Linked DNA regions of Homo sapiens. The protein of the gene in region 2 purifies or fractionates together with the protein of the main gene of each other region. This does not show direct contact. Each region holds a gene or a part of one and is shown on either strand. Other genes may lie near its edges.

Evidence for each region. The genes of interacting proteins can lie anywhere in the genome.
Region 1: the proteins of AARS1 (region 2) and NMD3 fractionate together in Homo sapiens (co-fractionation; one large-scale study listed by BioGRID). This does not show direct contact.

What each region holds. Positions count from the first base shown.
Region 1 is NC_000003.12:161,224,311-161,227,810, forward strand, and holds part of NMD3 (60S ribosomal export protein NMD3), read left to right. Parts: intron 1-619; coding exon 620-754; intron 755-2,936; coding exon 2,937-3,033; intron 3,034-3,500. UniProt on the Homo sapiens protein: Acts as an adapter for the XPO1/CRM1-mediated export of the 60S ribosomal subunit.
Region 2 is NC_000016.10:70,265,223-70,269,403, forward strand, and holds part of AARS1 (alanine--tRNA ligase, cytoplasmic), read right to left. Parts: intron 3,158-4,181; coding exon 3,049-3,157; intron 2,588-3,048; coding exon 2,437-2,587; intron 441-2,436; coding exon 316-440; intron 1-315. UniProt on the Homo sapiens protein: Catalyzes the attachment of alanine to tRNA(Ala) in a two-step reaction: alanine is first activated by ATP to form Ala-AMP and then transferred to the acceptor end of tRNA(Ala). Also edits incorrectly charged tRNA(Ala) via its editing domain.

The DNA of each region.
Region 1 (3,500 bases), on a different chromosome or scaffold from region 2:
AGAATAGAACATTTCTGTCGTGGCATGAAATTCTGTTGGACAGTACTGACCTTCTAGAACCTTTAGGACATCGGCCTTATATTGAGGATTTTTAGAATTATAGCCATTTTTGGTGTTTTTGCCCCTGTATTACAGGGTTATTCTTTATCTACTGCATCTTTGAAGATTGCTTTGTTTCTTTTTTTTGTTTCTTTTTTTTGAGACATTGTCTTGGTCTGTCACCCAGGCTGGAGTGCAGTGGCGTGATCTGGCTCACTGCAACTTCCACCTCCTGGGTTTGATATGCATGCCTCAGCCTCCCAAGTAGCTGGGATTACAGGCGTGCGCCACCATGCCTGGCTAATTTTTGTATTTTTAGTAGAGATGGGGTTTCACCATGTTGGCGAGGCTGGTCTTGAACTCCTTATCTCAGGTGATCTACCCGCCTCAGCCTCCCAAAGTGCTGGAATTACAGGTGTGAGCCACTGGCTGGCCCAGGTTGCTTTGTTTCTGTTATTTTTTTGAAAAGGGCAAAGATGCTGTGGCCTAACTTGAAGGCTTTTGTTTGTTTGGCATCTAAAAAAAAATTTAGTGTATTTTAAAAATCTAATGTGAAAAATTTATCCTTTATTTATTAAAGCTTGTGCTGTGAGTGTGGTGTTCCGATAAGTCCAAATCCTGCCAATATTTGTGTGGCCTGTTTGCGAAGTAAAGTGGACATCAGCCAAGGTATTCCGAAACAAGTCTCGATTTCGTTCTGCAAACAATGTCAAAGGTACAGTGCGGTACAATTTTGCTCTTTTTAAAGTTGGAATTTACATTTAGAGAACCACCGAGATATGCTGAGATTACACGAAGGTATATGGAGTAAAGTGCATGCAATTAAGGTTTAAATTTTCTGTTGGTGTCGCCAAAGATTTTAGAATTTGCAATTTTATAGTGTACTTTTCTAGTGTGTCCTTCTAATCTGGTAAAGATAGTGTAAATGTATTTGAATCTGTTCTTCTGTTAAAGGATCTAATAGATTTGATGTATATAGTTAATAGGAGTTGATGTTTGTAAGGGTGAGAGCAGATTATTGAGGACATATTGTTATTATGAGGTTTTTTTTTCTTTAGTTATTAGAAGCCATGTATGATAAAAAGCTTATGTTTGGAGTAATTTAGTAATATGTTTTAAAAACTCATAACATTCACGTGTAATTAAAATAACTATTGTTGATGGAAAAGAAGCTCAATAAATTATATCTGGAATGGTCTGAAATAAAGATTGGATTTGAAGGAAGAAGACTTCTTCTGAATGTTAATGTTTCATTCCTCTTGATTTTCTTTGTCAGCATAAACAACTTACATCTATTAGGCCATTGAGTAACACAAAACTGCCTAATGAGTGTAAAAGTGTATGCCTGTTATTTCCAAAATGGATTAAGACGCTAACTTTTTGAGTGTGTATCTCTAGAGGGGTGGTTCATGGACTCCTTTGAGAATTTGAAAACTGTATCTCTTCCCCAAAATATTTACATACATGTATATATATGTGTGTGTGTGTGTATATATGTAAAAATATATATGTGTGTGTGTGTATATATACATATATATACACAAACACATGAAACTGTGTACTGTTTCAGGGAGTTTACAGTGTATAAGCTTAGCAAGTGTGAGGCTTAATCTTTTATAAATATTTGCTATTAAAAGCCTGGTGGAGTTAGAAAAGTACTGATAAAGAACTAAACAGACTTAGTTTGTCTTGGCTTCCTCACAAACTAGCTGTTTGAAACTCTTAGCTGTTTATCATCTCTGGGCCTCAATTTCCTCATCAGAATGAAGGGTTTTATTAGGTGATATGTGAAGCCCTTTCTAACTCTAAACGTTTACTCATAGGCCAGGCTTGGTGGCTCACGCCTGTAATCCAAGCACTTGAGGAGGCTGAGGCGGGTGGATCACCTGAGGTCAGGAGTTCGAGACCAGACTGGCCAACATGGTGAAACCCTGTCTCTACTAAAAATACAAAAATTAGCCAGGCGTGGTGGGGCACGCATGTAATCCTAGCTACTCGAGAGGCAGGAGAATCGCTTGAACCCGAGAGGCAGAGGTTGCAGTGAGCCGAGATCATACACTGCACTCCATCCTGGGGGATGGAGCGAGACTCTGTCTCAAAAGAAAAAAGGAAAAAAAAATACGAAATAAATATGTACTTATAAACAAAGGGAGACCTGTGTAATGTTTTTGATTGAACCTTGAAAAGTGAAAGTCAAAACTTTCTGTTATGTAACAAGTATGGCAAAAAGACATTCACATAACATGTTTGGAAGTATTTTATATTTAGCAAGCATTTATTGAACACCTACTATAAGATGTATGTGGCATAGTGCTAAGTCCTGGGTAGGCAGGACTAAAAACCTTAAAGCACATATGTAAGAGATTTAAGTTTTGTTTTAGTCTGGTTTTACCCAAGATTTTAAATGTTGTTTTACAATTTACAATTTGAAAAGGACTTGAAATGTAGATGAATAGACTGAACTATTGCTGATTTATAGTGTTGTGAGGTACTAATGTACCTTTTTTTTGTGAAAAATAAGCAGTTCTCAGGCATTTTAGAAGTACATAATAAACCATTTTAATGCCATTTTGAGATGATTCTCACCTGTTTTTCAGAGCATAGCTTTAAGAGACTCTTGGACATTTTAGTGGTGATTTGGTGATTAAAGTAATAAGATCACTTTAGTAGGTTATTTCAGATTGACTTTCTCAGTCAGAATTTTACCTTTTTAATTAAAGCTGCTAGTCTAGTTGAAAGTTTTGGAACCATTAAAATATGTTTGAGTTAAGTGCTTCATATCATCCTTGGGTTTTATTATGCCTGGTTAATAATTTGGGTTATATCTGTGTATTCAGATGGAAATTTCTGTGTTTCCTGACAGATGTTGGATTTCAGTATGTTATCTTCTCTTTTAGGTATTTTCAACCACCAGGAACTTGGATACAGTGTGCTTTAGAATCCAGGGAACTTCTTGCTTTGTGCTTGAAAAAAATCAAAGCCCCTCTGAGTAAGGTAAGTTAAACAGCTAAAATCAGTATTCATAGGTATGTTTTCATTAAAGGTCTCATTTTCAGAAAATTCTTGTGAGTAGGTTTTTCAAAAGGAATTTTTTTTTTTTTTTTTTTTTTTGAGGTGGGGTCTTGAACTGTCACCTGGGCTAGGCTAGAGTACAATGGTGTGATCTCGGCTCACTGCAACCTCTGCCTCCCGGGTTCACACGATTCTCCTGCCTCAGCCTCCCAAGTAGCTGGGATTATAGGCGCACACCACCACATCTGGCTAATTTTTTGTATTTTTAGTAGAGACAGGGTTTCACTATGTTGGCCAGATTGGTCTCGAACTCCTGACCTCGTGATCTGCCTGCCTCGGCCTCCCAAAGTGCTGGGATTACAGGCGTGAGCCACCATGCTGGCCTCGAAAGTAACTATTAAATGTTACTATTGTTGCCAGTAGCACCCCACTACAAACACTTTTTAAAG
Region 2 (4,181 bases):
CACTACTGACATTTGGGGCCAGATCATTCTCTGTTGTGGAAACTTCTCTTGCAGTGTGGGATGCTGAGGGGCACCCTGGCCTCTACCAAGTACGTGACAGCAGGATCTGCCCCTAGTTGTGAAAATCAAAAATGTCTTCAGACATTATCGCCAATTACTCCCTGGAAGGCAGACTCGCCCCCACTTGAGAACCACTGATCTAGGGGAAAAAGCACTTCAAAGACTTTAATGGAAGGAAACTCATGCTCAGTCTGCAGCCAAGTGGTGCTGGGTTGGAAGGTGTTGGGTTTCCTGTTCACTCTCCAAGTTCTTTACCTGGGCCAGTTTCCTCTCCTCTTCAAAGCCATCCATGTCTACCACCAGGCCCTTCTCTTCAGCAATCAGTCCAGTCAGATCCACTGGAAACCCATAGGTGTCATAGAGGAGCCAAGCAGTGTCTCCTACACAGCACAAAGGAGGTGTGTCAAAAAAAACAGACAGCCCCTTTTCCATGCCAAGCCCTCCAAAAGGATGCTGGGACTGGCAGAAGGAATTAAAGACACAAGGCTATCAGTATCGGCCCTGTGTGCCCATCAGAAAATCCAGCACATCTTTTTCAGTTAACCTGGGGGAAGCACAATGGATGTCCTGATACAATTCTGTTTTGTTTTGTTTTGTTTTTTAAACCTCACCTGGGCTGGGCACCGTGGCTCGCGCCTGTAATCCCAGCACTTTGAGAGGCCGAGGCGGGCGGATCATGAGGTCAGGAGATTGAGACCATCCTGACTAACATGGTGAAACCCCGTCTCTAGGAAAAATACAAAAAATTTGGCCAGGCGCTGTGGCTCACGCCTGTAATCCCAGCACTTTGGGAGGCCGAGGCGGGCGGATCAGGAGGTCAGGAGATCGAGACCATCTTGGCCAATACGGTGAAACCCTGTCTCTACTAAAAATACAAAAAAATTAGCCGGGCATGGTGGCGGGCGCCTGTAGTCCCAGCTACTCGGGAGGCTGAGGCAGGAGAATGGCGTGAACCCGGGAGGTGGAGCTTGCAGTGAGCCGAGATAGCGCCACTGCACTCCAGCCTGGGCGACAGAGCAAGACTCTGTCTCAAAAATAAAAAATAAAAAAAAATAAATAAAAAAATTGCCAGGCGCGGTGGCGGACACCTGTAGTCCCAGCTACTAGAGAGGCTGAGGCAGGAGAATGGCATGACCCTGGGAGGCGGAGCTTGCAGTGAGCTGAGATCACACCACTGCACTCCAGCCTGGGCAACAGAGTGAGACTCCATCTCAAAAACAAAAACAACCTCACCTGGACAATTTTCTATTTCTTTTTTTTTGAGAGTCTCACTCTGTTGCCCAGGCTGGAGTGTACTGGTGTGATCTCGGCTCATTGCACTCTCCAGCTCCAGGATTCAAGCGATTCTCCTGCTTCAGTCTCCCGAGTAGCTGGGATTATGGGTGCCCGCCATCATGCATGGCTAATTTTTGCATTTTTAGTAGAGATGGGGTTTTACCATGTTGGCCAGGCTGGTCTCAAATTCCTGACCTCAGGTGATCTGCCTGCCTCAGCCTCCCAAAGTGATGGGATTAAAGGTGTGAGCCACTGTGCCCAGCCTTACACATCTATTTCTTTTTCTTTTTCTTTTTGAGATGGTGTTTCGCTCTTGTTGCCCAGGCTGGAGTGCAGTGGCATGATTTTGGCTCAATGCAACCTCCGCCTCCCCGGTTCAAGCAATTCTCCTGTCTCAGCCTCCCAAGTAGCTGGGATTACAGGCGCATGCCACCACACCCAGCTAATTTTTTGTATTTTTAGTAGAGACGGGGTTTTGCCATGTTGGGCAGGCTGGTCTTGAACTCATGACCTCGTGATCCGCCCGCCTCGGCATCCCAAAGTGCTAGGATTACAGGTGTGAGCCACCACACCCAGCTGACAAATCTATTTCTTGATCTGAATGTGTGTTCAATTTGTGAAAATTCATCAAGCTTTTCCCTTGTTCATTATACTTCAATAAAGAATCTTTGGAAACTGGGGAGAAAATCTTTGGAATTAATTTTCCCCAAATTGCAAAACAGTACATACCAAATATTCCCACTTTTGCTTGAAAAATACACACACACAAATATCTACATGTATTTGCATGCAAACAGAGAAGAATCCTGAAGAGTTCTACACCAAACCATTAAGAGTTGTTCCCTCTGAGAAATGAGTGTGGAAAAGAGGATTTTCATTTTCTGAACACTTTTGTATTCTGTATTGTTTGAATACTTTGGCCACAATGATGCATTACTTTTACCATTTTACTATAAATTCCAGTTTGCACCAAAAGCAATTCAATCAAGCTATGTTCAGCCTCAGAGACATGAGAGCCCACAGTCAGTCTGTCAGAAAGGGCTTGTCTTTCCCAGAAAGATCAAACGGCCAGGATGGAGAAGGGCAAAAACTGGTACCTACCGGGAATGGTCTTGCTGTCTCCCAGGCTCTGAATTTTCCTGTCCAGGATGCGACGCCCTCTGCTGAGAGTCTTGAGAAACTGCACCTCTTCTTCATTAATGATGTCCTTCACCATGTCTGGGTCCTTCTTCAGCTCAGGAAATGCATCTCCCTGACAAAGGGGAAGCAAGATGAGGGGCTGGATGAAGCCAGAGACTGTTCCCTGCCCCGTCTTAAAAAAGCTCCTTAGCTGGGTGCAGTGGCTCACGCCTGTAATCCTACCACTTTGGGAAGCCGAGGCAGGTGGATTGCCTGAGCTCAGGAGTTCAAGACCAGCCTGGGCAACACGGTGAAACCCTGTCTCTACTAAAACAGAAAAGATTAGCCAGGCTTGGCGGTGTGCACCTGTAATCCCAGCTATTCGGAAGGCTGAGACAGGAGAATCGCTTGAACCCAGGAGACAGAGGTTGCAGTGAGCCAAGATCACTCTATTGCACTCCAGCGTGGGTGACAGAGTGAGACTCCGTCTCAAAAAACAGCAACAAAAAGCTGCTTAACAGTATGCCCTCTCCCACTCCATCCCTCTTAACGGACTGCTTTAGCACAGAAGGGTAAGCAGAGAAATAAACCTACCAGGGACTGGACGACAACATCCACTAACGTAGCAAAGAAGCCCCTGCTGGCATTGAGCTTTTCATGGGCGTATCGGACAGCTCGGCGGAGAATCCGTCTCAACACATATCTGTAAGAGGCAAAAACTAGTCCCCAACGTTCCCAGCTGAGGGTTTTGTCTTGAGTCCCTTGGAATCCTACCCAAAGCAACACCTCTTTCAGGAACTTTCTTTTATCCTAAGCCTGCTTCTTTCGCATTCCCCAAGGTCATTAATTTTAGCACAAGACTCAGTAACATACCCACAAATACCCGTCAAGGCTTCCCTAGGGTAAACGCTGGTTTGTTTTCCTTTCACATTCAGTTACCCATAGAGGGAGGAAAGATGGACAGACCAGATGTGTACTTGATGCCTGTGATCCCAGGTCCTGCCTGTCAGTAAGAGAGATTCCCAGGGCTGGTCAATACCTACCCTCACCCTGCCCCTGCCAATCTCCTATCAGGCAACTTTGAATACAATCCTTATCATCTGTACTCAGCAGCAGAGATTTAATATAGTGGCAACTCTGTGACACTAGCTGAAACTCCCTTCATCCCTTAAAAAAGGGGTGGGGGATTCTTCCACCTGCCCAAGACAAGGAAACAATAACGAAAGATGGCTTTAAGTTTCATAAAGAGGCCGGGCATGGTGGCTCACACCTGTAATCCCATCACTTTGGGAGGTCGTAGCAGGTGGATCATCTGAGGTCAGGAGTTCGAGACCAGCCTGGCCAACATGGCAAAACCCCACCTCTGGCCGGGCACGGTGGCTCACGCCTGTAATCCCAGCACTGTGGGAGGCCGAGGCGGGCGGATCACCTGAGGTTGGGAGTTTGAGACCAGCCTGACCAACATGGAAGGAACCCCATCTTTACTAAAAATACAAAACTAGGCATGGTGGCTCATGCCTGTAATCCCATCTATTCGGGAGGCTGAGGGAAAAGAATTGCTTGAACTCAGGAGGTGGAGGTTGCGGTGAGCCAAGATCGGGCCATTGCACTCTAGCCCGGGCAACAAAAGCAAAATTCTGTCTCAGAAAAAAAAAAAAAAAAAAAAAAAAAAAAAAAAAAAAAACAACCGTCTCTACTAAAAGTACAAAAATTAGCCAGGCGTGGTG